4 linked regions of the Homo sapiens genome follow. Changing the gene in region 2 together with the main gene of any one other region gives a genetic interaction. Each region holds a gene or a part of one and is shown on either strand. Other genes may lie near its edges.

What was found.
Region 1: changes in RRM1 (region 2) and REV3L impair growth when combined (synthetic growth defect), as found in Homo sapiens cells (one large-scale study listed by BioGRID).
Region 3: changes in RRM1 (region 2) and SPOUT1 together harm fitness less than expected from each alone (positive genetic interaction), as found in Homo sapiens cells (one large-scale study listed by BioGRID).
Region 4: changes in RRM1 (region 2) and GFI1B together harm fitness more than expected from each alone (negative genetic interaction), as found in Homo sapiens cells (one large-scale study listed by BioGRID).

What each region holds. Positions count from the first base shown.
Region 1 is NC_000006.12:111,299,515-111,306,849, reverse strand, and holds part of REV3L (DNA polymerase zeta catalytic subunit), read left to right. Parts: intron 1-6,693; coding exon 6,694-6,834; 3' UTR 6,835-7,335. UniProt on the Homo sapiens protein: Catalytic subunit of the DNA polymerase zeta complex, an error-prone polymerase specialized in translesion DNA synthesis (TLS). Lacks an intrinsic 3'-5' exonuclease activity and thus has no proofreading function.
Region 2 is NC_000011.10:4,124,456-4,131,947, reverse strand, and holds part of RRM1 (ribonucleoside-diphosphate reductase large subunit), read right to left. Parts: intron 5,265-7,492; coding exon 5,115-5,264; intron 4,914-5,114; coding exon 4,692-4,913; intron 2,875-4,691; coding exon 2,798-2,874; intron 1-2,797. UniProt on the Homo sapiens protein: Provides the precursors necessary for DNA synthesis. Catalyzes the biosynthesis of deoxyribonucleotides from the corresponding ribonucleotides.
Region 3 is NC_000009.12:128,824,739-128,832,947, forward strand, and holds the start of SPOUT1 (28S rRNA (uridine-N(3))-methyltransferase), read right to left. Parts: upstream 5,043-8,209; coding exon 5,007-5,042; intron 4,418-5,006; coding exon 4,372-4,417; intron 4,123-4,371; coding exon 3,997-4,122; intron 2,454-3,996; coding exon 2,294-2,453; intron 1,892-2,293; coding exon 1,802-1,891; intron 1,696-1,801; coding exon 1,646-1,695; intron 1,415-1,645; coding exon 1,284-1,414; intron 312-1,283; coding exon 239-311; intron 132-238; coding exon 33-131; intron 1-32. Other genes in the region: KYAT1-SPOUT1 (uncharacterized protein LOC127739546), read right to left, coding at 33-131, 239-311, 1,284-1,414, 1,646-1,695, 1,802-1,891, 2,294-2,453, 3,997-4,122, 4,372-4,417 and 1 more. UniProt on the Homo sapiens protein: S-adenosyl-L-methionine-dependent methyltransferase that specifically methylates the N3 position of a uridine in 28S rRNA. Required for association of the centrosomes with the poles of the bipolar mitotic spindle during metaphase.
Region 4 is NC_000009.12:132,977,152-132,985,337, reverse strand, and holds the start of GFI1B (zinc finger protein Gfi-1b), read right to left. Parts: upstream 6,645-8,186; 5' UTR 6,497-6,644; intron 6,063-6,496; exon of another isoform or gene 5,521-6,062; intron 1-5,520. UniProt on the Homo sapiens protein: Essential proto-oncogenic transcriptional regulator necessary for development and differentiation of erythroid and megakaryocytic lineages.

The sequences.
Region 1 (7,335 bases), on a different chromosome or scaffold from region 2:
TATTAAAAAGAAGAAAGGAAAAGTCTCAATTGCTCTACTAGTGCTTACCATTCTTTAAAGAAAAATACCTAGTTGTCTTAGAGAATTGCTTGCTAGTAAACTTGGAAGGTTTATAATTCTGTGAGTCCAGGTAGATGATTAATGGCATGATTGAGTCATACTGTGTGCCACAGACTGTTCTAGGCACCTTTACAGGTGAGTAAACTGATACAGAGAGTTTAAGTGATTTGCATGTTACACTGCTAAGTGGCCGAGCTGGGATATAGACATAAAATGCAAGGATGATTTTTCAAGTATGAGAATTCTAGCAGAAATAAACAACAAACATCTCAAAGTAAGTTGAAGAATGAAATCTAAAGAAAAATTTGCCACCTCGCACCCCCCAATAAAATCATTACTCCTTATTGTTGATAAGTCATCTCCGTTCTGTCCCTACCTGCTATCCCTCTGTCACGATTTCTTGCTCTTCTCTGTCACACTCTACCTCGACCCATACCATATTGAACTTCTCTTAGGTCTGTGAATGCCCCTCGCCGCCTCCTCCTGGCCTTTAAACACCCTGCTCCTTCTGCCAGGAACACTTTCCTCTACCTATCCCACCCCACCCCCCATCTTCTGAGGAATCAGCTGAAACCTCTGGACTGGGTGAAGCCTTCCTTGCAGTAGGCTCCTGCCATAATCTCCTCTGCTTTACTGTGATTTGGGGTTTGTCTGTCTTCCTCACTAAATAGCAAATGAACCAGTGAGGACAGAGGCCCAGTTCTTTGACTGTCAAGTCAGTTATGCCTAGCATATAGCCAAGCCCATGGGGCTGGTCTGTAAATATTTATTGAATAAATGAACAAGTTCCTGGTTAATGCATGATTAAAGAAGGAATATATCACTGGAGTTATTACCAACCAACTTTCAGCCATTTTTTACCAGTTTTGTGGTTCTAGTCAGTACAACCACTGAAGTCACTGGGTGCTCCCAGCTTCTATTTATTTAATAGACTTCTGTCCTGATGGCAGCAGCCAACTCTCATAGAAAATTCCCTTGCTGGATCCTAGTATGACGCCTAAATGAGAGCAGGACCTCCAGGGCTCTGCTAAGGTCAGGCTGTTAAATGGTCCTTTCCTAGACTTTCTTATGTTTTTTCTGCACTCAATGACAAACACATCACTACTTGGTGCCATCAATTTACCCAGAGCCCATCCTCCTTCAACATTAGGTGTTCATTCTTTTTTTCTTTTTATTTATTTATTTTTATTTTATTTTATTTTTGAGGTAGGGTCTCACTTTGTCACCCAGACTGAAATGCAGTGGCATGATTACAGCTCATTGCAGCCTCAACCTCCTGGGCTCAAGTGATCCTCTCAGCTCAGCCTCCCATGTAGCTGGGACTACAGGCATATCCCACCATGTTTTACTAATTATTTTTTTTTAGACATCGGGTCTCACTATGTTGCCCAGGCTGGTCTCAAACTGTTGGACTCAAGCAATCCTCCCACTTCAGCTGCCTAAGGGCTGGGATTACAGGCATGAACCATGATGCCCGGCCATCTTATTTCTTATAAAAATACAGTTTAAAAGAAAGTGATGCCACAGCCATAAAAAAAGAATAAAATCGGCCGGGCGTGGTGGCTCATGCCTACAAATCCCAGCACTTTCGGAGGCCGAGGCGGGCGGATCACGTGAGGTCGGGAGTTCGAGACCAGCCTGACCAATATGGAGAAATTCCATCTCTACTAAAAATACAAAATTAGCCAGGCGTGGTGGCACATGCCTGTAATCCCAGCTACTCAGGAGGCTGAGGCAGGAGAATCGCTTGAACCTGGGAGGCAGAGGTTGCAGTGAGCTGAGATTGCAGCATTGCACTCCAGCCTGGGGAACAAGAGCGAAACTCTGTCTCAAAAAAAAAAAAAAAAGAACAAAGAACAAAATCATGTCCTTTGTAACAACATGGATGCAGCTGGGGCTATTATCCTAAGCAAATTAACGCAGAAACAGAAAACCAAATACTGCATGTTCTCACATATAATGAACATTGGGTACTCATGGACATAAAGATGGGAATGATGAACACTAGGGATTCCAAAAGGGGGGTGAGGAGAGGAAAAGTTGAAAAACCACCTGTCAGATACTACATTTACTGCATGGGCAACAGGATCATTAGAAGCTCAAACCTCAACATCATACAGTATACCCATGTAACAAACCTACATGTATACCCTTGGATCGAAAAAAAAAAAAAAAAGAAAAAGCGATGCTATTTATAAATAATGATGGTTTGTCATCTTTCAAGAGCTATTTTAATTTGAGGTGTTTTTCAAGAACGTTCAAATGAATGTCTCCCATACACTAATTTGTAGAAATTTTTAATGAAGCAGAAATTACTAGAGATGTAATGAGAATTAGAAACACATCCAAACAGGAGATTTTACATCATTCTCAATCCAAGACCAATCAAGTGATCAGAAATAAGTGAAATTATGGAAATTGTAAACATTATAAGTCAGACCTTGTGATTATATATCAAACTCTGTAACCCAGTACCAAAAAATGTACTTCTTAAGTGTTTCTAGAATGTTTTAAATGTCTCCCATGCACTAATTTGTAGAAATTTTTAATGAAGCAGAAATTACTAGAGATGTAATGAGAATTAGAAACACATCCAAACAGGAGATTTTACATCATTCTCAATCCAAGACCAATCAAGTGATCAGAAATAAGTGAAATTATGGAAATTGTAAACATTATAAGTCAGACCTTGTGATTATATATCAAACTCTGTAACCCAGTACCAAAAAATATACTTCTTAAGTGTTTCTAGAATGTTTTAAAAATATCTGGCCAGGTGTGGTGACTCATGCCTGTAATCCCAACACTTTGGGAGGCCAAGGCAGGTAGATCACCTGGGGTCAGGAGTTTGAAACGTTTGGCCAACATGGAGAAACCCCAGCTCTACTAAAAAATACAAAAATTAGCCAGGCATGGTGGCATGAGCCTTGTACTCCCAACTACTCAGGAGGCTGAGGCAGGAAAATCACTTGAACCCAGGAGGCAGAGGCTGCAGTGAGCCGAGATCACACCACTGAACTCCAGCCTGGGTGACAGAGCAAGACTCCATCTTAAAAAAAAAAAAAAAAAAAAAAAAAAAAAAAAAAAAGTCATAGTCTGTTAAAAAAAAAAAAAAAAAGCCTCGGCTGGGGATCATGGCTCACGCCTATAATCCCAGCACTTTGGGAGGCTGAGGCAGGAGGATCACTTGAGGGCAGGAGTTTGAGACCAGCCTGGCCAACATGGCAAAACCCCATCTCTACTAAAAATACAAAAATTAGCAGGGTATGGTGGCAGGCACCTATAATCCCAGCTACTTGGGAGGCTGAGGTAGGACAATCGCTTGAGCCAGGGAGGCAGAGGTTACAGTGAGCTGAGATTGTGCCACTGCACTCCAGCCTGGGCAACAGAGTGAGACTCCATTTCAAAAATAATAAATTAAAAATAAAATAATAAAAATTAAAATTTAAAATTAGCCAGGCATGGTGGCGGGCACCCGCAATCCCAGCTACTAAGGAGGCTGAGGCAGGAGAATCACTTGAACCTAGGAGGCAGAGGTTGCAGTGAACTGAGATCATGCCACTGCACTCCAGCCTGGGCAACAGAATGAGACGCTCTCTCTCATCTCAAAAAAAAAAAAAAAAAGAAAGAAAAGAAAGCCTCAGTACATTTCAAAAAGTAGAAATATTACAAATGAATGTAATACAATGCTATAAAATGGTAATTAATTACAAACTAAAAAAAAAAGTGATCCTTCCACTTGTAAATTCTGTTAAACAAAATGAAAACACTGCAAATCAGATTCTAGATGGCAGACCTCAGAGAAAAATTCATCACCTTAACACTGTTAATCATAAACATGAAAGAATGAAAGCAAATGAAGCAAGCATCTGACTGAAAAATTTTTTTTGAGACGGAGTCTCACTGTTGCCCAGGCTGGAGTGTAGTTGGTGCAATCTTGGCTCACTGCAACCTCTGCCTTCCAGGTTCAAGCAATTCTCCTGCCTCAGCCTCCCGAGTAGCTGGGATTACAGGCATGCACCACCACGCCCAGCTAATTTTCGTATTTTTAGTGGAGACAGTTTCACCATGTTGGCCAGGTGGTCTCAAACTCCTGACCTCAGGTGATCCACCTGCCTCTGCCTCCCAGAGTACTAGGATTACAGGCATGAGCCACTGTGCCCAGCCTTGACTAAATTTTTTTTGAACAAGAAAGCCAAAGGATAGTAAAAAGAATAAAGATTAAAGCAGATATTTTTTAAGTGCCTGCCTCCCTATGTGCTACAAAGTAGATGTCCGGGTTGGGGCACTAAAGTTTTAAATGTAAGCCTGAATCAAGCTATAATGCTCAGGGTTTAAACCAGTAAAGGATCTTGAAACTAAACACTGAGTTAAATTTAGTGAGTCAAGTAATTCCATCCTGGCTTATTTATCAGACAAGCACAGAAAGAGCTTAAATATTTATCAGTTTGTCCTGGCACCTGAATGTAACTGCAATTCATAGAGCTGTAATACAGAAATTCTATATTTGGGAATAGATTTGAGTCTCTTGGCAGAGATCTAATTAGCAAAGGCTTCATCATAGAACAGCATACTCAGTCTTCATGGAGCATACTGAAGCACATGTTTGTAAGCAGTCTGCTTGTGACAATATCATAATATTGGATACAGTAACCAGTCTACTTAGAAAAAGTGTGCCCTTCGGTTAACTGGAAGATAACTGGGGCAAAGAACAAAACTTCACTGGCCTGTGAGCCATCTCTGAAACTGAAACCCTTTGATAAATATAGATCAAAGAATTCACTAGAGCGTATTTGATTTCTCTTAAAAGACAATCCAGAGTAGTTGTTGCCATTTGGTATGGCTTTTTTAAAATCACTTGTCTACACTATTCAGGTGAAAGTCGGCCTGCATTTTCTTAACCTTTGGAGTCTTCATTGGCATCCTTTTTAATTTTTTTATGTTCTTCATGTTTTATAACCTTTTTTTTAACTATATATGCAACTTGAGACTTTAAAGTATTTTTAAAAATTGATCATTGTGTAAAACATTATAGTGCTTCTCTTTTTAAAAATTGCCTTATGATTTATTATTTTCCTTAAGATCAGATCTTATTATACATCCAAATCATCTGGGAAGCCTTAAGAAGTACAGATTCTTAGGCTTTCATGCCTGGAGATTCTGACTCATTATGGGTCTGGGATGGGGCACTTGTTTATTTTTAAGCTCATTGTTAGCCAGGGTTAAGAACCACTGGTCTGCACCACTACTTTCAAATTCACATTATTTGATTTTTTTTTTTTTTGAAATTTTACAGCTGGGTCTCTGGGGGTGACATCACATGTTGGCAGGTTCCTTGATGCCCCTTGAGCCACAAAACCAGCAAGTTTTTATTAGGGGTTTCAAAAGGGGAGGGGTGTACGAATAGGGAGTGGGTCACATGCTTCAAAGGCAGTAAAATATCACAACAGCAAAGAGGCAGAGTGAGATCACAAGGCCAGGGTGAAACTAGAATTACTGATGAAGGTCCATGTCGTGCTGGGCACACATTGTCATTGATAAACATCTTAACAGGAAACAGGGTTCGTGATCAGACAACCAGTCTGACTAGAATTCGCCAGGCTGGAATTTCCTAATCCTAGCAAGCCTGGGGGTGCTGCAGGAGGCCAGGGCATATTTCATCCCGTGTCTACAACTGCATAAGACAGACACTCCCAGAGTGGCCATTTTAGAGACCTACCCCTGAGAATGCATTCGTTTTCCCGGGGTTATTCCTTGCTGAGAAAAGAATTCAGCGATATTTCTCCTATTCGCTTTCTGAAAGAAGAGAAATATGACTCTGTTCTGCCAGGCCCTGCAGGCAGTCAGATTTTATGGTTATCTCCCTTATTCCCTGCAAATCGCTGTTATCCTGTTCTTTTCAAGGTGCTCAGATTTCATATTGTTCAAACACACATGCTTTACAAACAATTTGTGCAGATAACGCAATCACCACAGGGTCCTGAGGCGATATACATCCTCAGCTTACGGAGATGACGGAATTAAAAGATTAAAGACAGGCATAGGAAATTATAAGAGTATTGATTGGGGAAGTGATAAATGTTCATGAAATCTTCACAATTCATGTTCAGAGATTGCAGTAAAGACAGGCATAAGAAATTATGAAAGTATTAATTTGGGGAACTAACAAATGTCCATGAAATCTTCACAATTTATGTTTTTCTGCTGTGGCTTCAGCAGGTTGCTTTTCTCTTCTGGAATACGAAAAAGAGTAACTTTTTTATGATTGGCATATGAGAATATAGTCTAAGTACTTTGAAAACGTGTTTATAGTTCATGTAAGAGACATTCTTTGGTAATTGGGTAGCTTATGTAGATTTTAATAGGATTCCATTGTAAATGAAAGTTAATCTTAGGAATTAAATGAATCCTTAGGGAAATTTGTACTCTATCTTTACAAAATAATATCCTTTAGAAATGTCTCAACATAGGGTAGTCTAGGCTTCCAAGAGATTAAAATTAATGAAAGTTTCTGTAATGTATGTCTGCCAGTAATCTGTGGTAGTCTAGAAAGTAGGGATTATAAAAATTTGTTGTTTGCATACACGCATAAAAACTTTCCTATTATTTTTTGTATTTCTCTTATGCTTTCAGATATGCAAGAACTGTACAGGTTGCTTTGATCGACACATCCCATGTGTTTCTCTGAACTGCCCAGTACTTTTCAAACTCTCCCGAGTAAATAGAGAATTGTCCAAGGCACCATATCTCCGGCAGTTATTAGACCAGTTTTAAATTGTCAATATCACAGTATTACAGGTGCTATTTTTTTCAGTGCTTACCACTAAACTGTTGTGCATGGTGCTTTTTAACTTTCATCGAGTCAAGGATGTTCACTGTCTGTTATCTGAAGACTATGAAGACTTCTATGCTAACCGAATTAAAATGTACTTGTTGATCTCTGAATAGCTCACTTCTTACAATGTACAAATTCCTCATTCTGTCACCTTTTAAACATTGTTTTATAATGCAGGTGTTGGATTTGCTCCAGTATGTGTACCATCTTGTAAATTCATTTGAGTAGATCATGTTTACTTCCCAGTGGAAGGAGCACTGAAAACCTCTTAAAGAAAAAGCATTTGTGTGTTTTCCTTGAACTGTCTGTATCAAGACGTGTTACTTCGAGATATCCATTCACTTTATAATTTTGACTGCAAAATATTTTGTAAATACACTTTTTTACTTTTCAAACGAGCAAAATAATGTGCAATGATTTTTATACAAATGATTTTCAAG
Region 2 (7,492 bases):
GAAATATTCAAATCACTGTTGAAGCGCTCCCCACCTGTATTAGGTTACACTCATCCAACCCTCACTCTTTTCCAAGTGCCTATAAAATCATTGTGCTAGGCCCCTTCTGGAAAAATAATGATGAGAAAGTGTTCAGAATCAGAGAAATATCACCACAATTCTCCATTATCCTGTAAAGAGGAAGAAATTATGCTCAAAGTATATTCTTCAATTATAAGTTCCTGCAAGAAGGTTAACATCTTTTGACTAATAAGAGAAAATACACTATCTGACACACTGAGAAATCTCCCAACTGCCCCTGGCTCACCTTCAAAGCTCAGCCTAATTGATAGCAATTTTAAAACATCTTTCCTCATCAGGCAGGCACAAATACAAATGTCAAATACAAATATCTACTCTGCAAACATTTTCTCTGACCTGTACCTTTCCGTATACCTTAACTACTTGTTTTCTTAGTCTCAAGTTTTTAAAACACAAAGAGCCTGTCTTTCCTACATTCTATACCTATGGATTCATACAGTGCTTAGCATACAGCCTCATATCCTGACGGAGTCTGTACAACTGGATATAGTTTGGCTGTGTCCCCACCCAAATCTCATCTTGAACTGTAGTTCCCATAATCCCCACGTTACGGGAGGGACCTGGCGGGAGGTAATTTAATCACAGAGGAGGTTACCCTCATGCTGTTCTCATGAGATAGTGAGTTCTCACAAGATCTGGTTTTATAAGGGGCTTTTCTCCCTTTACTCAGCACTTTGCTTGCCGCCGTATTAAAGAAGGACCTGTTTGCCTCCCCTTCTGCTATGATTGTAAGTTTCCTGAGGCCTCCCCAACCCTGCGGAACTGTGAGTCAATTAAACCTCTTTCCTTTTTAAATTACCCAGTCTCAGGCAGTTCTTTATAACTGTGTGAGAATCGACTAATACAACTGGGTTCTCTACTTTTTAGTTATTATTATTTTTTTATTTACTTTTTTTGGGGGGTGGTTCTCCACCTTACTCTGTCACTTTGTAGTGAGGTATCAAGCAAACCACCAACTATCTTCATGTCTTTACTTCCTCATCTGTAAAATAGCAACATCATCTGTCTACAGACAGGTAAATGTTGTGAAAAGTCCTACATATATGATATATTCAAACTATGGAATTGTCTATAATAATTAAAAACATTAGGTAGACCTACAGGTACTAAAAGAGAAAGAGCTCCAAAATAAATCACTAAATAACAAGTCTCAGAATACATCAAGTCTTTTTTTTGAGACAGAGTCACAGTTACCTAGGCTGGAGTACAGTGGCATGATCTCGGCTCCCTGTAATCTCCACCTCCTAGGTTCAAGTGATTCTCATGTCTCAGCCTCCCAAGTAGCTGGGATTACAGGCATGCACCACCACGCCCAGCTAATTTTTGTATTTTTAGTAGAGACTAAGTTTCGCCATGTTGCCCAAGCTGGTCTTGAACTCCTGACCTCAAGTGATCCACCCACCTCAGCCTCTCAAAGTGCTGGGATTACAGACGTGAGTCATGGTGCCCAGCCCAGAATACATCAAGTTTGATCACATTTATATGACAAAACCGTGTATGTGTACCTATCTGCAAATGTACTGAAAAAGATCTAGAAAAATACACACCATTAACAAGTCTTATCTCTGGGAAAAAGAATAAGTTACTTTTTTGGTTTGTTTTCTGAGACAAATGGTTGGCAGAAGTATGAAGAAGGGCTTTTACTTTCTATTTTATTTCTGTATTTGAGCTTTATTAATAATAAATTTGTGTTCATATACTAATTTTGAAATTAGAAAAAAAGTCATGTATATAAAAAACTAAGCCATAGTATTTTGAGGGGAAAAAAAAAAAAAAAAAATATATATATATATATATATAAATACAGTACAGGTCCATTTTCTTAAAAGTTGAATTTCCATGTAAATACACATGTATGTGTACTCTTGGAAGAAAACCTAAAGGATGACAGACACTAAGATGCACACAGGTTTTCTGGGGGAGGCAGTATTAGTATAATTTTCATTTTCTCTTTCCAAATCTATGTTTTCCTAAATTTTCTAACATGTATTATTTGAGTAGGAAAACAATTTTAATTTAACAATTTTAAGGCAAACGGTTATTTTTTTTAAAGAGCATTTTAAAGCTACTGCTTCATTCTCCAAATATTAATCACTTTGCATATGCATTAACCCATAAATGACAAAGTCATCACGATAGAAAACAAAAACAATTTGCTTTGTTATTCACTCTGCAAAACATTCTGTCTGCCTTCGAATCCCTTATGCTTATTAGTTTGAAAGGCCTACAAAAACTCAATTTAAAAATTTTTTTTTCATATAGTCTAAACACATTACCCTCCAAAAACTCTTCCAAAATCCATTATTCCTATGACAATCAATTCAAACAAAAGCCATTTATATGCCCGATGTAACTAAATTGGGAAATAAATAAGAATGAAAAACATTTAAAAAAAAAAATCATAGTTGGAAAAAAGCCTTAATGAGAAAGAAAATTACCTAATCTAGGTGTGTTAAGTCCCTAAAATAAGATCAACTAATAATAGTAATTCCTACCAGGTACTGAAATGCTTTCATTGTGCCAAGCAACTTCCAGGTTACTATATATATTATCTTACGAAGTTTTTTCCCAAAATAGTTTTGTGAGATAGGCCATTTTAGCCCCATTTGTAATAAATGAGTTTAAGAAGTTAAAATGACATATCTAACTTCTGAAGATCCAGAAGGTGAACCTAAACCCTTCTGCCTTCAAAGCTACTTTACATCTTTTCACTTACTTTGCAATCTTCTCCTTGAGAACCTTCCAGTCCCATAGGTCTGTAGGAGTAACATTCCACATATCATACTGAAGAATCTAAGGAATACACAACTCAAATTTATTCTACAGCAAGTTAAAACTATGACCAAAAAAAAAAAAAACCCACAAATGACTAGCTGCCATGTCCCCACATCCCAACAAATGCTGTCTTCTAATCAACCTCTATGAGGAATACAAGCTCCAGAGATTTTCCTGGACAAAATTCCATGTAGTCATATTGATCAGAAGCAGGCTAAGAAAACTGATTATCCCATGTCATATCTACAAACCAGAAAACTCTAACATTCATAAAAGGGTGTGGCTGACACATTCTCTTTTTTTAACACTAAAAATGTTACTTTCTTCAGTGCCTTCATCTGTCCCTTGATCTGTTTACTTAGCTAAAAACACCTATTTTCTAATAACCACACATTAGATTTTCTAATATCAGCAGGAATGTCAGAAATGAAATTAACATTTTATATAGTAAAGAATCATAGTACTGATAATAAAGGCAGTGGGAAAGGCAGAATTCTAAGACAGCTTCCCAGATTCCCACACCTTGGTGCACAGGCTATTTATAATCTCCACTTGAGTATGGACATGACTTGAGAATAGGATGCATGTCACTCCAGCGATTATGGCAAAGGTGAAAGGTTTCTGCAGATGTAATTAAGGTTGCAAATCAGCCGATTCTGAGTTAAATAAAAGGAAGATTACGCCAGGTGCAGTGATTCATGCCTGTAATCCCAGCACTTTGGGAGGCCAAGGCAGGCGGATCACTTGAGGTCACAAGTTCAAGACCAGCCTGGCCAACATGGCAAAACCCCATCTCTACTAACTCGGGAGACTTGAGGCAGCAGAACTGCTTCAACCTGAGAAGCAGAGGTTGCAGTGATCTAAGATCACACCACACACTCCAGCCTGGGTAACAAAGTGAGACTCTGTCTCAAAAAAAAAAAAAAAAAAGCGGGACAGGGGGGTGGTGAGGACATTATCCTATGTGGACCTAACTTATCAGGTGAAAACCCTCAAAAGAGACTAGACTGTGCCCCTTTTGAAACGAGAGATGGTCTCTCCCACTGGCCTTAAAGAAGCAAGATGCCATGAGTCCTTGAAATATATTCTGCCAACAACCAGGTAAGCTTGGAAGAGAACTCTGTGTCTCAGACGAGATCACAGCCCTTACCAACATCTTGAACACAGACCCAGAAAAGAAGGCCCAGCTAAGCTAAGTCTGGACTCCTGACCTGTGGAAACTGTGAGATAACGAATGCCATGTTTTAACCCACAGAAAACTAACATTGGCAGCATCCCTCTTACATTATTTTAGCAATGACTAGTTCTAAATAAGAGATTAAAACAGAGTATCCTTTTTACTCCAGAGGACAAAGGTATTTAAGTTTCCTATGGCTGGTGCAACAAATTACTAAAAACTTGGTAACTTAACAAAAATTTATTCTCTCATAGTTCTGAAGACCAGAAGCCCAAAATCAACATGTTGGGAGGGCCACACTCCCTCCAGAGGCACTAGAAGAGATTCTGTTCCTTGCCTCTTATAACTTCTAGTGGTTATCAGCATTCCAAGGCTTGTGGTTGTAACACTCCAATTTCTGCCTCCATAGTCACGTTGCTTCCCCTTCTGTGCCTCTTGCAGGACAACTGTCATTAGATTTAGGGCTCACCTGGATAATCCAGGTAAATCTCCTTATCTCAAGGTTCTTAATTACATCTGCAAAATACCTTTTTTTGAACCAAATGAAATTAAATTCACAGGTTCCAGGAATTAGGATGTGGACATATCCTTTTGTGGGGTCACCATTCAGCCCACTACAGGTACTCACAGGCAAAAACAATTCCATCCATATACTTACTCCTTTGCTAACTGGAGAGCCCTCATAGGTTTCGTATGGGCCCTGCTCCTTGGCAAGGTCACAGCTGGCTTCCAGAGCACCATAATAAATAGTTTCAAAGATCTGCTTATTCAGTAACTGGGCTTCTGCACTCTCAAAAGGGTATCTCATCAGGATAAAAGCATCTGCCAGACCTTGTACCCCAATTCCAATGGGGCGATGGCGTTTATTTGATAGGCATGCCTTTGTGTCAACAGATTTTAAAGAAAAGGAGAAAACATTACTGAACAGGAAAAGCAACATTCTGTACCAAATGAGACAGACTACCTCTTTTTCTCAAACCATTTTATTGATAACCATTTAAATGATGACTTGAAGATCATGATTGATTCCTTTCAATTTGGATTTCAATAATTACCAATAAGCAGAGAAATCTATTCATACCTCTGGTACAGGATAGTAGTTTATATCAATAATTTTATTCAAGTTTCGGACAACGACTTTAGTGACTTCAGCCAACTTCTTAAAGTCGTATGTGTGTTCTGATGTGACATACATATTCAGGGCCAGGGAAGCCAAATTACAAACAGCAACCTGGAATGCAAAAAACAGGTCAAGAATCACACAATTTTTATTTCTACTTCCTGTGTCAATTACACCACCATGTGAGCCTCTAATACTCAGACATTAAAATTTTAAATTTTTATATTTGACTTCTCCCTCTTCATCATTCATCAGTCCATTTCTAAATCCCACTGATTCTATTTCTTCAATACCTAGTCATATGTGTTAGTTATAACATGCATCAGCAAAATAGGTAAGAGAGAGAGAGAACCCTATGTTCCACAGTACACAGCTCTATTACCAGACATATATCACACTATGTTATAATTAGCTTTTTACATATACCTATCTCATTATTCAGTAGATGAGTGCCCTGCAATATGGTAGCCACTGGCTACATATATCTATTTAAAATGAAATAAAATTTGAGTTTCTCAGTTGCACTAGTCATATTTCAAGTGCTCAATAGCCATCAGATACAGAACATTTCCATCACTGCAGAGTTCTTCAAAACACACACGTCCACCTCACCTTCACTGATATTCTGACAAGCCCTTAGCAACAATGGATCTCAATTTGTGATTTCTGAAAAAGCTCTTCCAGTGATTTCTCCACTACACGAGGCAGTGAGCTTCTTCACACAAGGATCATCTTATTTATATTTATATGTTTAGCACTAGCAACACATCTGGCACACAGTAAGTCTTGATAATGTTGAATGAATACACTTTCTTTTCCATTTTGATTATGACTATCCCAAGCCAAAGTCTTAACTTCTCTCACATGGACTACTGAAAGTTTCCCAGTTGAACTCTTGATGCCCTTCACATCTACTCCATTCTACACATGTTGCCAAATACCCATTTTTTTAAATATAGCTTGAATCACAGAAGTCTAATAAATGCCAGGAAGAAAAATAGGCAGGAAAAGAAGACAGAGAGTACTGGGGATAAAGATGAAGGGGGTATAATTTTTAAACAGAATTGTCAAGAAGGACCTCATTGAAAATGTTACATATGAACAAAGAACTGAACAGGTTAGAAAGCAAATCATGTGGCTATGGGAAGAGGGGGTGCATTTTAACATTCAAGAGGGAAGAAGGAGCAAAAATCCTGAGGTAGGAGCATGGTTGACATGTTTGAGAAAAAGCAAGAAAATTAATAGGGTTGGAGCAAAGTGAACAAAGGGGAAAGTAACCGCAGATGAGGTGGGTTATCCAGTTGTGTAGGACCTTGTAGGGCACTGTAAGAACTCTGGATGGAAAGGAATGAAGTACTGATACATGCTACAACATGAATAAAAGAACATGTTAAGTGAAAGAAGCCTGACACAAAAGGCCACATATTATATGACTCCATTCCTATGGAATGTCCACAATGTCCACAAATCTAGAGACAGAAAATATATTAGTGGTTGTCAAGGGCTGAGGGAAGAAGGGAACAGGGAGTGACTGCTAATGGATAAAGGGTTTCATTATCTACAGTGATAAAAATGTACTACAGGCCGGTCACGGTGGCTCACGCCTGTAATCCCAACACTTTGGGAGGCTGAGGTGGGCGGATCACGAGGTCAAGAGATTGAGACCATCCTGGCCAACATAGTGAAACCTCGTCCCTACTAAAAATACAAAAATTAGCTGGGTGTGGTGGCACGCGCCTGTAGTCCCAGCTACTCGGGAGGCTGAGGCAGGAGAATCGCTTGAATCCAGGAGGCGGAGGTTGCAGTGAGCCGAGATCGAGCCACTACACTCCAGCCTGGTGACAGAGCAAGACTCTGTCTCAAAAAAAAAAAAATAAAATAAATAAATACTACAATTAGATAGTGGTAATGGTTGCACAGACTTGCAGATATACTAAAAAAAAGAAAAGAAAAGAAAAGAAAAAAAACACTGAATTGTACATTTTAAAAAGAGTGAATTATAGCTCAATTTGCAAAAAGAAAGAACTCTGTTGAGGTTGCAGTGAGCCACAGCCCAGCTTGGGCAACAGAGTGAAATCTTGACGCCCCCCGAAAAAAAAGGAATTCTGCATGGGTTAGCAAGCCAAAGAGTAGTTTTGTGCAGACAAATGACATTATCTGATTTTTATTTTAAAAATGTCACTCTAGCCTCTATAATATAATCTGTCTTGCATAATAGTTACCTCAATATATGTCGATGTCTTCCAACTAAATTAGAAGTTTCCAGAGGGCAGCATATTTATTTATATTCTCAGAGCACTTAACATTGTGTTTTACATATAGCTACTGCACAATAAATT
Region 3 (8,209 bases), on a different chromosome or scaffold from region 2:
TGGATATTCAGAGAAGTAAGGTCTGTCCTTACTGAGGCAGGAAGCCAGTCGGACGGTGTAGCCCCAGTAGAGACCAGCTTTGGTGCGAGGGTCCTGCGATGATACCACTTTGCCATGGTAGGTCTTGCAGTCTGGAGGGGTAACAGAGTCTGTAAAGATGGGGTGAGGGAATGGAAGCAGGTGGCTGAACCCTGGAGCTCATCAGGCCAACCCAGGGGTTGGGGAACCTTCCAGATACCTGGGTGCTGCTGCTGGTTCAGTCGCACAGTCACCCGAAGCCCGGGCTCCAGGTTCTTGTCAATCTTCACCTCCTGGGGAGAAGCCAGAAGAAATGGGTGCCATTCCTCTCAAGATCAGCAGGGGCCACGGCTCTTCCAGATGCCACCAGGGGAGCCCCGGGGCTGGCAAGGGACCAAGGGGTCCAGGTCAACCTGCCACCCTCCACCCCTGGCACCGGCTGAACCTGCTCACAAGAGATCATTTGTGCAAAACACAGGTCACTGGCCAAACATGCACCTTTGGGGCGCTCATGGCACAGGATAGAAGTAGATGAAACTCAGTTTTCTACATTTTGGTAGCTCTGCAACTTTTTTTTCTTTTTTTTCTTTTTTAAGATGGAGTCTGGCTCTCTCACCCAGGCTGGAGTGCAGTGGCACGATCTCAGCTCACTGCAACCTCTGTCTCCTGGGTTCAAGTGAATCTCCTGCCTTAGCCTCCCGAGTAGCTGGGATTATAGATGCGTGCCACCACACCTGGATCATTTTTGTACTTTTATTAGAGACAGGGTTTCACCATATTGGCCAGGTTGGTCTCAAACTCCTGACCTCAAATGACCCGCCTGCCTCAGCCTCCCAAAGTGCTGGGGTTACAGGCGTGAGCCACTGCGCTTGGGTTGTGCTTTCTGACAGGAAGGGACTCCATACATGTAAAGGTTTCTGCCTCTGATTTGAGGAGGCTTGAGGATAAAGAGGCGGCAAATTAATGCCCTCATCCCAGCTTGGCTCTGTGCCACATGGGAGCAGCTCCAGAGTGACTTTCAACTTGTTTCTGCAGGGTTTTGTTTGGAGCATGAGGACTGTCTTCTGTTGATTTGCTTTTTAAGCAACAGTAAATTCATTCCTGGCTTTATCTATTGAGCCCCATTTTGCACAATTCTCTGGCCCAAATTTGCATCAGTGAGGGATTTCGGGCAGGTCCAGGGCTCTCCGCAACATCCATCTGCTTGCCCTCCATTGCCAGGGTGTGTCCTGGAGGTGTGTCCTAGCCCATCTTTCTGTTCCTACCTTTTTCATGCCACAGTTGACAAAGGAGCCGTGGCCTGGCCGGGTGGGCCGATCCACCACGATGCCCTCTCGGAACTCGGATTCCTCATCCTGACGCATGTGGTGGGGGCTGTCCAGGGGGTTCAGGAGCCCTGTGGAGGCAGAGCCGGGAAGAGTCTGGGAAGTGCTAGGGCACACAGGGTGCAGTGGGGACCCTGGAGCGGAGTACCGGCTCTGCCACAGACCTGCGTCTTGGCATCAGACACAGGTCTTGCTCTCCCAGGCCTGCTTTCCCACCTGGACAGCGCAGGGTAGGACTGGGTGGTCTCAGTGTCTGTGGCATGATCCAGGGGAAATGGGGGGGCGGGCCCATACAGCGTTACCTGCAAACTGTAGATCCTGGTGCTTGGGGAAGAACGCCTTCCTCAGGTACCTAGGAAAGAATGCTGACCTCAGGATGTTCCCAGGGGAAGCCGCCTCCTACCTGGTCTCCACTTTGACACACCCCTCCCTCATGCTTAGGGGAGTGACCCCCTTACTGTGGACACTCCAGGTACTGCAGGATCCGGGCCAGCTGTACGCACGCCTGCCCCTTCTTCCCAACTCCTGTGAATTCCCCCTCCACAGTCCTGGAGAGAGAGAGATGGGGGCTCAGGATCCAGCTGTGGCCCCTTCAAGAGCTCCTGTCTACAAGTGCACGCGTATAATCCCAGCTACTCAGGAGGCTAAGGTGGGAGGATCATCTGAGTGCAGCAAGTAGAGGCTGCAGTGAGCCATGACCATGCCACTGCATGCACTCCAGCCGGGGTGACAGCTGAGATACAGGTTTAGGCCTTCTGGCTCCCAATCCCACCTCTGTAGTCATCACCCCCACCTGGCAACTCTACCCACTAAGGATTACACAGGGAATATTTCAGGCAGGGCACGAGGGAAGAGCCAGGCATGTGGACGGGGCCATGGTGAAGCCTCGGCCCATCCCGGCAGCCCCTCCCTCTCCCTGAACCCTGGCACCCTGTGGGATGGCCCCTTACTTGGCATCCTGGCCCTCCTCATCAAACACCACGATCTCATCCACACAGAAGATGGCACAGGCTCTGGCAATCTGACCGGCCAAGTAGGTGCGAAGCTCCGGCGACTGAGCATTGTCCAGGATGGAGCCCGGCAGGGCTACGCTCAGTGTGTAGGGCCGCCCTGAGCAGGGGAGGGATGTTCCCAGCCAGTGTGAGAGGCAAGGGCCCCCTACCTTTCTCTCCCTTCCTCTGTCCCTAGCGCCCATGGTTTGAGAATTTCCCAAGTGGGAGGAATTTTGAGATGAGCAAAATAGATCCAGCTCCCCTCTCTGGGCCTCAGTCTCCCAGCAGTCTCCATGGCTCCTCTGAGCAGGGCAAACCACTGGGCGAGGCTGTGGAGCGGTTAGTAGCAATGGCCTAAGTTCACATCCTGGCTCTCCCACTTACTGCCTCAGTTCTCCAGCTATCAAATGGGGATAAAATGAAAGCTGATATCTAATAAGTCTTTAGTGTGTGCACATTAACCCGATAGCCATTAACCTGATCCCTAGTGAGGATACTGCCATTATCCCCATTTACAGACCAGGGGCCTTCAGCCCCGGGAAGTCAAATACATGGCCCAAGGTCACACAAAAGGTGGCTCATGCCTGTAATCCCAGCACTTTGGGAGGCCAAGGCGGGCGGATCACCTGAGTGAGGTCAGGAGTTCAAGACCAGCCTGGCCAACATGGCGAAACCCCGTCTCTACTAAAAATACAAAAATTAGCTGGGCATGGTGGCGCATGCCTGTAATCCCAGCTACTCCGGAGGCTGGGGCAGGAGAATCGATTGAACTGGGAAGTGGAGATTGCAGTGAGCGGAGATCGAGCCACTGCACTCCAGCCTGGGCAACAGAGCGAGACTGTGTCTCAAAAACAAACAAAAAAGCCCAAGAAGCACATAGATAACATGGTTTCACTGTTGTAACATTGTATCTGTACTTTGCTACACATGGATAAGTAGCTATAATTGTTTGGACAAGCTTTTGCTACAATGTTTGCTGGGATTGTTCCTGTCTTCTTTGTAGTTTTCTTTCATTTTTATTATGAAATCAAAATAATTGAAAAATGAAATTAAAGCACACAGAAAATGCTCAATAAAAAAGTCAAAAAATCAGGAAGATCATGAAGTTCTAGAGGTCTAAGTTAAGAGATATGAGGCTTGGGCCGGGCACGGTGGCTCATGCCTGTAATCCCAGCACTTTGGGAGGCTGAAGTGGGCAGATCACCTGAGGTCAGGAGTTCGAGACCGGCCTCCCCAACATGGTGCAACCACGTCTCTACTAAAAATACGAAAATTAGCCAGGTGTGGTGGCACACTTCTGTAATCCCAACTACTCGGGGGGCCGAGGGAGGAAAATTGCTTGAACTTGGGCAGTGGAGGTTGCAGTGAGCAGAGATGGCGCCGTTGCACTCCAGCCTGGGCAACAGAGCAAGACTCCATCTCAAAAAAAAAAAAAAAGAGAGATAAGGCTTGCCTTCCATAGGCTTGAAATTTACCTAAGCAGGAGGTCAGAACTCAGTTTGCTGGCTCCCTCCCTTCTCTGGGCCTCAGTTTCTCCATCAGGACAAGATGTTTGGACCTACTGGTCTGTAAAGGCCCTTTCAGATAAGACATCTCTGCTCTGCCTGCAGGACAACTACCGTGGGCCACAACCTGTGGCCCTCCCCAAGACCCCAGCTCACCGCGGTCCTCCTTCTCTGCCGCTGCCTCCTCCTCTTCCAGGCGCTTTGCCTGTTCCTCCTGTGCCCGCTGCCGCTCCAGTTTTTTCATCAGCTTGAGATCCTTCCATTTTTTTTTCTCCTCTTTCTCTGGATAAAAGAACATCCTAATTGGCCAAGGAGACAGTTCCCACTCATTGGGTCAGCCTGGACTCTGGAGAGCTGCTGGGTGAGCAGCCAGAGGGCAGCAAGGGAGCCTCCCCAGGGCTCCCGGCCCCTGCCTCCCCACTTTGTGTGCTGCAGGACCCAGAGGGAACAAAGTTGGTGTCTTTCTCCAGGGTTTGACTGAGCACTGGTGGAGTGGCCTATGGGAAGATACTCTTACCCACCCTTACTTACTCTGTTGCTTCCATTTTCGCCACTCAATCCTTTGGCCGTGTTCACCCTGGAGAAGGAGTGGTAGGAGGATTATGAGTGTGAGGCTGATGGTCACACCTGGAGGGGGTCCGTTTGCTGCACCATAGCCAGCCCCTCCACACGGGGCGGCAAGGAAGCCAAGGAACCTCTGCGAACTGCTGCCCCAGAAAGCGGCAGGAGGGCAGGGACCCGCTGTATCCCCAGCGCCTGGGACCCAGCCTGGCACACAGAAAGCACTCAAGAAACTGTCGAATGAGTTCCCACAAAACAGAAGAGAAAACTGAGGCTCAGGGTACAGCACTGCCCACAGTCGCCCTGGAAGTCAGAAAAGGGCTCCAGAAGCCACGAAAGGGCTCCGGATTCAGCATCCGGAGGCGAGCAGGGTCCCGCCTCCGTAATCCAGCGGGGGCCAGGGAGCCGCAGGGGGTTCCGGAGAGGACACGGGCGCTGTTCCCATCCTGCTGAGGCTCACGCGGCACCTTCGGGGGCTTCCGGCCTGGGATCAGCGGGAAGCAGGCAGCAGGAGGCGCGGCCCGGCCCCGGCGAAGGCCCCCACGCCACTGGTTCTCACGCCTCCACCATGCTGCCCTGCACGGGGTCCCGCCGCCCGCACTTACCGGGCCGCACGGCCGCTTCCTGCCGCGCTCCGCCATGTTCCGCACACACCGTCGGTCCCGCCTCTGCCAATGAGACTCGCCTCTTCCGGCCACACCTCCATTAAGCTGTCCAATCGGAGAGCCAATATCGCCCAGGGGCGTGGCCTGGGCGCCCGACGGGCTGCAGGGGTACGCGGGCTGGAGTAGGTTGGGCAGAGTAGGTGTCCAAATAGGCGGCATCGCGGGTACTGTGCTGAATTTTGGATGGCTCGGAGCCCCCCTCTGAGTTGGGACAAATACAACACTCAGACCTCTGAGTAGTTCACTTGTTTAAAAATAATTTTTTTTGAGACAGGGTCTCGCTATGTTGCCGAGGCTGGAGTGCAGTGGAGCAATTCTAGCTCACTGCAGGCTTGAGCTCCTGGGCTCAAGGGATCCTCCCACCTTAGCCTCCCGAGTAGCTGGAACCACAGGTGCGCAGCACCACGCCTAGCTCCTGGAAGGCTTTATACATGGGGACCCTGGGGCCTTGAGCTGTAGTGTGATTCAGAGCTGAAAATGAGATAATTTACTCCAGGTTTCTTATAGATTCGTTCACGTACTCTTTCTTTTTTTTGAGACAGAGTCTCGATTCATTGCCCAGGCTGGAGTGCAATGGCGCGATCTCGGCTCACTGCAACCTCCACCTCCTGGGTTCAAGCAATTCTCCTGCCTCAGCCTTTCAAGAAGCTGGGATTACAGGAGCGTGCCACCATGCCCAGCAAATTTTTTTGTGTGTGTTTTTAGTAGAGATGGTGTTGATGTTGGCCCCGTGTTGGCCAGCCTGGTTGAACTCCTGACCATAAGTGATCCTCCAGCCTCGGCCTCCCAAAGGGCTGGGATTACAGGCGTGACCCACTGCACCCGGCCTTTTTTTTTTTTTTTTTTTTTTTTTTTTTTTTTTTTTGAGACAGAGTTTCGCTTTTCTTGCCCAGGCTGGAGTGCAATGGCTCGATCTCAGCTCACAGGAACCTCCAACTCCTGGGTTCAAGCGATTCTCCTGCCTTAGCCTCCCGAGTAGCTGGGATTACAGGCATGCACCACCACGCCTGGCTGATTTTGTATTTTTAGTAGAGATGGAGTTTCTCTATGTTGGTCAGGCTGGTCTCGAACTCTTGACCTCAGGTGATCCGCCCACCTCGGCTTCCCAAAATGCTGGGATTACAGGCATGAGCCACCACGCCCGGCCTCGTTCTCTTTTAATTAACAGACTATATTAGTTGGGACTACAAGTGTGAGCCACCATGCCCGACTAATTTTTTTTTTTCTTTTTGTACAGATAGTGTCTCACTATGTTGCCAGGGCTGGTCTCAGACTCCAGGGTTCAAGCAATCCTCCCAACTTGGCTTCCCAAAGGGCTGAGATTATAGACTTGAGCCATTAATGCCTTTTATTTTTTGAGATCTAGTCTCACTCTGTTGCTCAGGCTGAAGTGCAGTGGCATGATCTCGGCTCACTGCAACCTCTGCCTCCCAGGTTCAAGCAATTCTCCTGCCTCAAGCTCCCAAGTAGCTGGGATTACAGGCGCCTGCCACCAAGCCCGGCTAATTTTTGTATTTTTAGTAGAGACGGGATTCTCCATGTTGGTCAGGTTGGTCTTGAACTCCCGACCTCAGGTGATCCACCCGCCTCGGCCTCCCAAAGTGCTGGAATTACAGGTGTCAGCCACCGTGCCCGGTCTCGAACTTAGATTTTTTTTTTTTTGAGACAGTCTCGCTCTGCTCTGTCGCCCAGGCTAGAGTGCAGTGGCGTGATCTCCGCTCACTGCAAGCTCCGCCTCCTGGGTTCATGCCATTCTCCTGCCTCAGCTTCCCGAGTAGCTGGGACTACAGGTGCCCGCCACTGCACCCGGCTAATTTTTTATATTTTTAGTAGAGACAGGGTTTCACCGTGTTAGCCAGGATGGTCTCGATCTCCTGACCTCGTGATCCACCCGCCTCGGCCTCCCAAAGTGCCGGGATTACAGGTGTGAGCCACCGTGCCTGGTCTCGAACTTAGATCTTATACTAAATTTGTTGTGATTTTTGACAGGTTTATTTTGTAGGCATGACTGATTAAGACATTGGCCATTTGAAAAAACAAACACAAAAATCCCCCCAAAACAACAATAACAAACAGACATGGACCATGTGATTGGGCTCAAAGTCTAGTCCCTCACACCTCCATGGAGGCAGAGATGGAGGGGGCCCGATGGGCTAAAAGTTCTGACCCCGTAATCGTACAGTGCAGAGGGATTCCATGTGACTAACAAGACATGCCTATCTTCCAGAAACTCCAAGGATTTTAGGAATTCTTTACTAAGGACCAGGGGCAAACACCAAATATGTATTTTATTATATGATATATTCCTATCAGCTCCCCCAGTTAAACATATGATATGAGCCAAACCCATGCGCTTGCTATGCAAATGCAACTTCAAGACCAGGCCCCTAACACCACCTTCCAAAGAAATTCAGGAGCTACTATTGCTATCCAGTGAGACTCAATCGGGGCCAGCTAGAAGGCCTGGGCACACCACTTCACCTCACCTCCAGAGTGCTTTCCTCTCTTGTGAACTGGAGATAACTCAGGTCTCAGTCTCAGAGGGTTGTGTAAGATGATGTGCGTCTGAGTGCCTCGCAGGTAGGGCTTGCACGATCAACATTCAGTCCTCCTCCTGAGAATTATTTAAGTCCCTGGTCCTCCTGGCCCCCACTGTGCTGTTCTCTCACCCCTGTGGGAATGTCCATGTCTTCCTTGTCACGAACCCCAATCCTCTCCACACACACACACACACACAAACACATATGACACCCCCACCCCAGCCACCACACCCAGCACCAATAACTGCTACCATCAGATTAATATGAGAGGCCAGCTATGGTGGCTCACGTCTGTAATCCCAGCACTTTGGGAGGCCGAGGCGAGCAGATGACCTGAGGTCAGGAGTTTGAGTCCAGCCCAGCCAACATGGTGAAACCCCATCTCTACAAAAACACAAAAATTAGCCGGGCGTGGTGGCAGGTGCCTGTAGTCCCAGCTACTCAGGAGGCTGAGGCAGGAGAATTGCTTGAACCCAGGAGGTGGAGGTTGCAATGAGCCAAGATCATGCCACTGCACTCCAGCCTGGGGGACAGAGCGAGACTCTGTTTCAAAAACAACAACAACAACAACAACAACAACAACAACAACAACAAAGATTAATA
Region 4 (8,186 bases), on a different chromosome or scaffold from region 2:
AGGGACCATCCCAGGCAGAGTCAGGGAGTGACAGGGCTGGACCAACTTGACCACCCCAGGACTCCTGGCTTCCCCTGCAGAGCCCTCTGGAGCTGAGAGCCCTGCCTGGCCCCCAGAATGGTTCACATCCCTGCACTCAGCCTGTGAGGTTCCCCCGGGCACTCTGGAGAGCATCTTCTGGTGGTCCTCTATCCTTTCTGCCCCCACGCTGCACCCAGGCCGACACCAGGCCCATGCCTGAGGCGTCAGAGGAGTCCCACCCCCCCACCCCTTGGGCCAGCCGCCATGCAAGGCTGCAGGGGTGATAGGGTCCGGAGAAGGCGGGAGAGGGATCACAGCTGCTTCAGAACAGCAGTGAGGGCCTGGGTGATAAGGCCTTGGCCCAGGAGCAGGGTGGGAGGTGGGAGATTAGAGAATGCAGCTTGGAAAAGGGCCAGGGACTCACCCCTTCCCCAAGGAGATGAACCACAGCCAGGCAGAAGAGGGACCCGACTATGCCCAGGCCTGCTTCCCCCTGGCCCAGAGCCTGGGGGCATCAAGAGTTTGGACTGGGGGCTCTGCACAGGGGGCCAAGCTCAGGCCCAGCCCTTGCCTGCTGTAAGGCTCATCACTGAGCCTCAGTGCTCATATCTGCTAAACGGGGATCCCAATCCAACCACATGGGATGGTGGGGAGCGAGAAAGGACCTTTATCCATCAGGAGCGAGTGTGAGAGGTGCTCAGCATGTGCTCCCCCGCATCCCAGCACCCAGCCCACTGCAGGTGCATTCAAAGGACGGGGTAAGCCCTGTGCCAAGGGCTGCAGCAGCCTCCCAGAAGCCAGGGCCGCGCTCAAGGCCCTGTACTCTCTGAGCTCTAAAATTAGGAGAAAGGACCTTGAAGGCCTCTGGGGTCCCTTCCCGCGGTCAGATTCTCGGCTCTCTGAACACAGGCTCGGGCCGGGGGCAGCCCACGGCCTTATCTCCCAGGGACACGTCTTCCTCCTCTTGCCTCCTCCCCCTCCCTCACCAGGGCTCCCCACACCCCCCTTCCTTCCCGCTTTTAACTCTTCTTCGCTTCAAGAAAGCCCATGGGGAGGCCAGACCCTAGGGGGAGAGGAGGGGACCCAGTGAGCAGGAGGAGGACTGGGGGTGTGGGGTTCCCCTTGCACTTTGTTTTGAGGGGGCCTGTGAGGGTCATGGTTTGCCTATCAAAATATCAAAAGATGATCCTTTTTTGCGCATAATATTTATGAGGAAATCAACTAGAACCAAAGGTACTCGCCAAGGCTTCTGTGATAGAAGAGGAGCTGGTCAAACCTTCTGGCAGGGGGCTGCTTAGCCTGCCTTGTTTATTACACCTTTAATTCTGATGCTTAATCCAGATGCTGAGTCCCGCTGCTGTCCCATTTTATAAAGAAGGAGCTGAAGCCTGGAGGGCTCAGGACCCTGGGGCAGAGTGAGCAGGGAAGGACTGGGGTCTGTCTGGCCCCAGGCCTCCATGCTCTTGACTTTCAGCCCAGCAGGTGGGCAGTTACTCGGTGCAGAATGGGTGCCAAGTGCTGGGCAGTGCCCGGCATGGGCTTCTCTCTGCAGAGGGAGTGGAGCCGACGTGCTAGGGATGAAAACAGCAGTTTGAAGCTCCCTCGTGTGCCCGTGTCAAGCAGTGTCTTCCCAGGTTGCAGGTGGGAAAACTGAGGTGCAGAGAGGAAAGTGACTCAGACCCAGGGCTCCTGGCCTGTTAGGATTTTACTCTCAAGCCACTGTGCCACCCAGCACTGTCAGAGGTCCTCACAGCACCCGGTGAACACCGCCTGCAGCACAGAGGGAAATGCAGGGTGCTGGGGCAAGAGGGGAGAAAAATCAGGCCGGGTGCAGTGGCTCACACCTGTAATCCCAACATTTTGGGAGGCCGAGGCGGACGGATCACAAGATCAGGAGTTCGAGACCAGCCTAGCCAACACAGTGAAACCTCGTCTCTACAAAAAATACAAAAATTAGCCGGGCATGGTGGCACTTGCCTACAGTTCCAGCTACTCAGGAGGCTGAGGCAGGAGAATCGCTTGAACCCGGGAGGCGGAGGTTGCAGTGAGCCGAGATCACACCACCACTGCACTTCAGCCTGGGTGACAGAGCCACACTCTGTCTCAAAAAAAAAAAAAAAAAAAAAGGAGGGAGAAAAATCAAACCCTCTGACCCTCAAGTCTTTTCCAGGCTCCTAAAAGACCCACATGGCTCCTGAAGAGTCTTGGTGGGGCCAGGCCAGGGACAGACTTCCCTTCAGGAAGCATTGGTATTCTCCTGGGCTCAGGGCCTAAGGAGAACCCAGGTCAACTGACTCTAACCCTGGGCCCCACAACAAGGACACTTTCTAGCGCTCATGAGCCCTGGCCAAGCACTTTTCACTTAGGCACAGGGCAAGATGGGGCTGGCTTCTGGGGTTCTCCAGCCTCAGGAAGGTGATTCTCATGCTTCTTCTAGTGATCTCCCCTGAGCCCCACACCCGCTTTCTTGCCTCCCCCCAGTGTTCTCTCCCCTGAGCTTGGCAAGTGACAGTGACACAGCCAACGCCACGGCCAAGCCCTCTGGCTCACAGAGGGGCCAAATGCACCCGGTGAACTTCCTTTTGGCCCCTGTTAGCAGAGTTGTTTTTTTTTTAAAGAAAAAACAGGAACCAATCACCTATACTGTAGTTAATTAACAACCACTTGGTTTTGATTGACATGAACTCCGTTCTGAGAAGGAGCTAAGAGCAGAGATTATGAAAGAAGCTCAGGAATTCTTCATAAAACAGAGGACTTGATGGTATCGGACCTCCGGAAAGAGGCTCACTGTTATCACTCCATAACCCCCGATCCTGATAGAGTCCCCCTGACCCTGAGTCAGAATCTCAGTCAGTGCTTCTTGAAGACAGGCGACCCTGCACCCTGGCAGGAGCCAGCACCCTAACTTCCAGTTGGACTTGGGTCAACAGGCCTGTGATGTCCCTGTAATGAGGCCCCTTTGTTGCCCAAGGAGTTGAGTCTGATTTGGGGTCCTGGAGCTTGTGACCGCATCAGCCACCAACCTGGGGCTTGGTTTTCCTATCTCTTAAAAGGGACGGTTGGGCTAAGAGATTTCTAAACTTCCCTTTTGCTCTAAAATCCCATGTAGAATTCGTTGACCTTCAGTGAGAGATTGAACCACCTTGACTAAAAGACTTGTCACTCGGGTTCCCCTTTTGGGAGGGTTGGGTAAGACTCAGCTGGTTCTCAGGGTCAGCTACAGAGAACCTTTTTGACTTCCTTTATGTTTAAAGACTCAAGGGAGGCCGGGCGTGGTGGCTCACGCCTGTAATCCCAGCACTTTGGGAGGCCAAGGCAGGCGGATCACCTGAAGTCAGGAGTTCAAGACCAGCCTGGCCAACATGGGGAAACCCCGTCTCTACTAAAAATACAAAACTTAGCTGGGTGTGGTGGCAGGCACCTGTAATCCCAGCTACTCGGGAGGCTGAGGCTGGAGAATCACTTGAACCCAGAAGGCGGAGGTTGCGGTGAGCCCAGATGGCGCCACTGCACTCCAGCCTGGGTGACACAGCGAGACTCTGTCAAAAAAAAAAAAGATTCAAGGGGAAAACAAGACTTGTCCGTGGAGGAGTCGGGGGAAAATGAGCCCAGGTCAGGCCCAGGGGCCCCAGCAGAAAGTAATCATCATCATCATCACCATCATTATTATTATTATTTTGAGACAGAGTCTCACTCTGTCACCTGGGCTGGAGTGCAGTGGTTTGATCTTGGCCCACTGTAACCTCCACCTCCCAGGCCCAAGCGATCCTCCCATCTTAGCTTCTCGAGTAGCTGGGACTACAGGCATGCACCACCACAGTTGGCTAATTTTTGTATTTTTTGTAGAGACGGGGTTTTGCCATGTTGCCCAGGCCGGTCTAAATCATCATTTTTATTTGAAATTTAGAAGGAGTTCTCAAATGTCTCCTCCAAAGCTCAGAGAATGCAATGTCAAAAGTGAGTGAATCTACTTCTGGGTATAGACCCAAAATCATTGGAAGGGGAGACTCAAAGAGATATCTGCATACTCATGTTTATAGCAGCACTATTCACAATAGGCAAAAAGTGGAAGCAACCCAGGTTTCATGGCAGATGAATGTCCAAACAACATGTGGTCTATGGCCAGACTTAGTGGCTCACACCTGTAATCCCAGCACTGTGGGAGGCCGAGGTGGGCAGATCACCTGAGGTCAGGAGTTCCAAGACAAGCCTGGCCAAAATGGCGAAACCCCACCTCTACTAGAAATACAAAAATCAGCCAGGCATGGTGGTGGGTGCCTGTAATCCCAGCTACCCAGGAGGCTGAGGCAGGAGAATCGCTTGAACCCGGGAGGCAGAGGTTGCAGTGAGCCAAGATCGCACCATGGCACTCCAGCTTTGTGACAGAGACTCTGTCTCAAACAAACAAACAAACAAACAAAATGTGGTCTAGACATATGATTGAACATTATTCGGCCTTAAAAAGGAAGGAAATGCTGGCGCATGCTACAACATGGATGAACCTGAAGGATTTATGCTAAGTGAAATAAGCCAATCACAAAAGGACAAATACTGTGTGATTCCTTATATGAGTCCCTAAAATAGGCAATTTCATAGAGACAGAAATAGATAGAGGTTGCCAGAGGTGAGGGGAAGGGAATGGAAGTTACTGTGTAATAGGTATGAAGTTTCAGCTTTATGAGATGAAACAGTTCTGTGGATGGATGGTGGTGATGGTTGCACAGCCATGTGGGTGTACTTAATACCATTGAATGGTACGCTTGAAAATGGCTAAAACGGGAAATTTTATGTTATATGTATTTTATCAAAATAAAAAGACAAGTGAGTGAATGAAACTCTTTCTGCATATCTCTATATTATAGACTAAAGCAGCTCCCATTGGCTTGAATTCCTGGCAAGGAACACACGAAAAGCCTCCCTCTAGACTAAGAGGGGGTGGTGTTTGCTGATGTTTCAACCAAGGGTCTGGATATTGTGGCACAGACAGTGAAGAATCCCATTTGATCAGGCTGTTTTCCCTGGGTGATCTGGAGCCATCTGGTCCCAGAGCCTTTGAAAATCCTTGTACTGTCCAATAAGATTCCCACCCACCCTACCCTGCCCCGCTGAAAGCTTCGGGGCAATGGTCTGCGCTGGTTTTGAGTGATTCCATTAATCAAACCGAAACCAGGTATAGCTCTCCAATGTTCCCCAAGAACTCTCTTCAGGAAGACCAAACTCTGACAGAAAGAGCAAGGGGAATTACGCATTTTCTTGTCCAAAGAATTCCTTCTGCAATACTTCCGAGGACAAGAAACTTGACACTTTGCTAGACTTGGAAGAAATATTCTGCCTGTTGCCTACTAAGAAACATGCAGGCGCGTCCAGGCGGTCAGGTGCAGCTCAGCTGGCTTCTAATATCTACCAGACTCATGCCCACAGATTGTAATCGAATTTACTCCCTAAGAACTCGTGAAAGCTCTGGACTTTCTCCCCGGAAAAATGTACACGGGCACATACCCACGGCGATTCTGCAGACCTCCTCTTCACAAGTCCTGTTTTAGAGTGAGCATGTCTCCTCAGATGCCTCAACACTTAAACTTGGTTTTTTTTCTCCAAAAATAGGTGGAAAGGGCTAACAACAGCCACAGGGAAAGGCGAGCTGAAACAGTACCTCTCCATGGTCGGTCCTATTGTTCCTGGAGCCTGGGCAGTGTGTGGGAGAGGGCAGCCCTGTCATCTCCCCTTAGTAGGCTCTGGAGGGGAGAGCGCCTGACTCTCAAAGTGTCCTGGGAATTTGGCTGGGCGCAGTGGCTAATGCCTGTAATCCCAACACTTTGGGAGGCTGAGGCAGGTGGATCGTTTGAGGTCAAGAGTTCGAGACCAGCCTGGCCAACATGGTGAAACCCGTCTCTACTAAAAATACAAAAATTAGCCAGGCGTGGTAACACGCGCCTGTAATCCCAGCTACTTGGGAGGCTGAGGCAGGAGAATCGCTTGAATTCGGGAGGCAGAGGTTTCAGTGCAATCGCACCACTGCGCTCCAGAGTCTCACTCTGTCTCAAAAAAAAAAAAAAAAAAAAAAAAAAAAGTGTCCCAGGAACTTTAGTCAAGTCCCTAAAGTCTGGGACTGTCTCCGAGGGGGAACACAACTCAGGCACTTGGAAGTGTGTCTCCCTGAGCACTGCCCAGGTCCCCAGGACAGCTGGGTTGTGGGTATGACTTTGTGCCCGAAGGTGACGTCTGTCAGCCTAAAATCAAATTTTGAAAAGTGTTTCTGCGCAGCCGGCAAAGGCGCAATTCCTAGCACAGTGGCTCAGACGAGGCTACGTCCTCACCCTGTTTCTCCCTTGGCTCCTTGCCTTCCAGAGCTTTTCCAGCCCACCTCACCTTTCCTAGGACCGCAGGAGGAGCCAGGGAGCCTGCTGTGAAGCCACCTGCGGCGCACAGGCACATTTCAAAACAAAAGCGTAGAAACGCATCCTCCAGCACTCACCTGTCCGGAGCTGTCCCTCGCCTGGGTTCTGCCGGAGCTTCCCGAGGTGGGAACTGCAAAGCCTCTCTCGGGACTGGCCTCCACTCTGTCAACTGTGTGACTCTTTGCACAAATAGATACTTCTCCTTTTTGCTCTGTCTCTCTGTGTGTTTTTCCTCTTCTGTTCCCCTCCCTGATTTTCAATCTGATTATTTGTGTCAAAATCTGGCGGTGAACAAGCAGCCAATGAAGAGAGCGCGGGAGCTCAGCCGTATTTGCTTATCAAAACTTTCCAGGACACAAGACTTCGAATTCTCATTTCTAACCCTCGACACTTGGAGCGGCACGCTTTCTCTCTGCAGAGAAATTCAGAATTTCGCTGGAAATTTTGAATAACATCTGCACAAAAAGAAAGTGATGGCTAAATTATTAAATTTTAAAAATTAAAGTTAGAAAAAGCTCTAACTTATAAAACTCGATTTTGCATAGGGAAGTCATTGCTCTTTGGTTTTTTTCTTCTTTCTTTTCTCTTGCCTTTTTTCTTCCTTCCCTCCTTCCCTCCTTTTTCCTTCCTTCTCTTCCTCCTTTCTTTCTTCCTCCCTCCCTGCCTCCTTCCTTCCCTTCCTTATTTTCCTTCTTCCTCCCTCCTTCTTTCCTTCCCTCCCTCCCTCCTTCTCCTCCTCTCCTCTCTCTCTCTTCCCTCCTTTCCTCCCTCCTTTTTTCCCTGCCTCCCTCCTCGCTGCCTCCTCCCCTCCCTCCCTCCCCAAGTTCAGCACCCTGAGGCTTGTGAGAGCCAGGCTGGTGCAATGCCCCTAGTACCCGAGCCGGCCACATGCATAGAGGCCCCTCTTGTCCTTGCAGAGGTCATATCTCAGAAGAGACATCAAATTTGCATTTCCCCCAGATATGACCTTTGAGCGGGTAGAGGCACCCTGGAGGTGTGGCAGTGAGTTCGGAGGCCAGGAGACGCTCGGCCTGCTGAAGCTGCCATACAGATTGAAGGCCAGGTGCCAGAGCCCGTGTGTGCTGCCCTCTGGTGGCAGACAAAGTGATGGGGAGGCCAGTGGGGGCCTCTGGGGTGTCCCATTGATGCTGGGGGGAGTGAGGGCGGTAAAGCTTGGCTGAGCTGGCTGGGGCATTTCTTCCCATTTGGCAGGGCGTCCCATCCCCTGGCTCCCCACCTTCTCCCTCCTCCTCTGGCCCCCGCCTCCTCCCGCTTGCAGGATGACTGATTTATTTCAGGAGGTTTTGCATAAGATGAGAACGCCACAAACAGAGCACTGTTAGGCTGCTTTGTCTGCTCTTCCAGCCCGGGTGCTGGAGATATTATGTTTCCCTCATAAAGAAAACAAGTCTGGTGACAGGAAGCCCCAATTTAAACTGCAAGTCCAAGGTTCAAAATGAAGAAAAAGGGGTGTTTCAGGCGAGGTCTTTCTGCTGGGCCAGCCCTGGAGCACCAGCCAGGAGGACACAACCCTGTGGTCACCAGGCCTCAGTAATGCTGGGGTGTCAGTCCCAGCCCCAGGCTACAGACAGCAGACCACTGCTCCCAGCTCTGTGGTCTCTCTTGGTGGAAAGAAACATCTTTTTAAAAAATTATTATTGGCTGGGCACAGTGGTTCACGCCTGTAATCCCAGCACTTTGAGAGGCCGAGGCAGGCGAGGATCACTTGAGATCGGGAGTTCAAGACCAGCCTGACCAACATGGAGA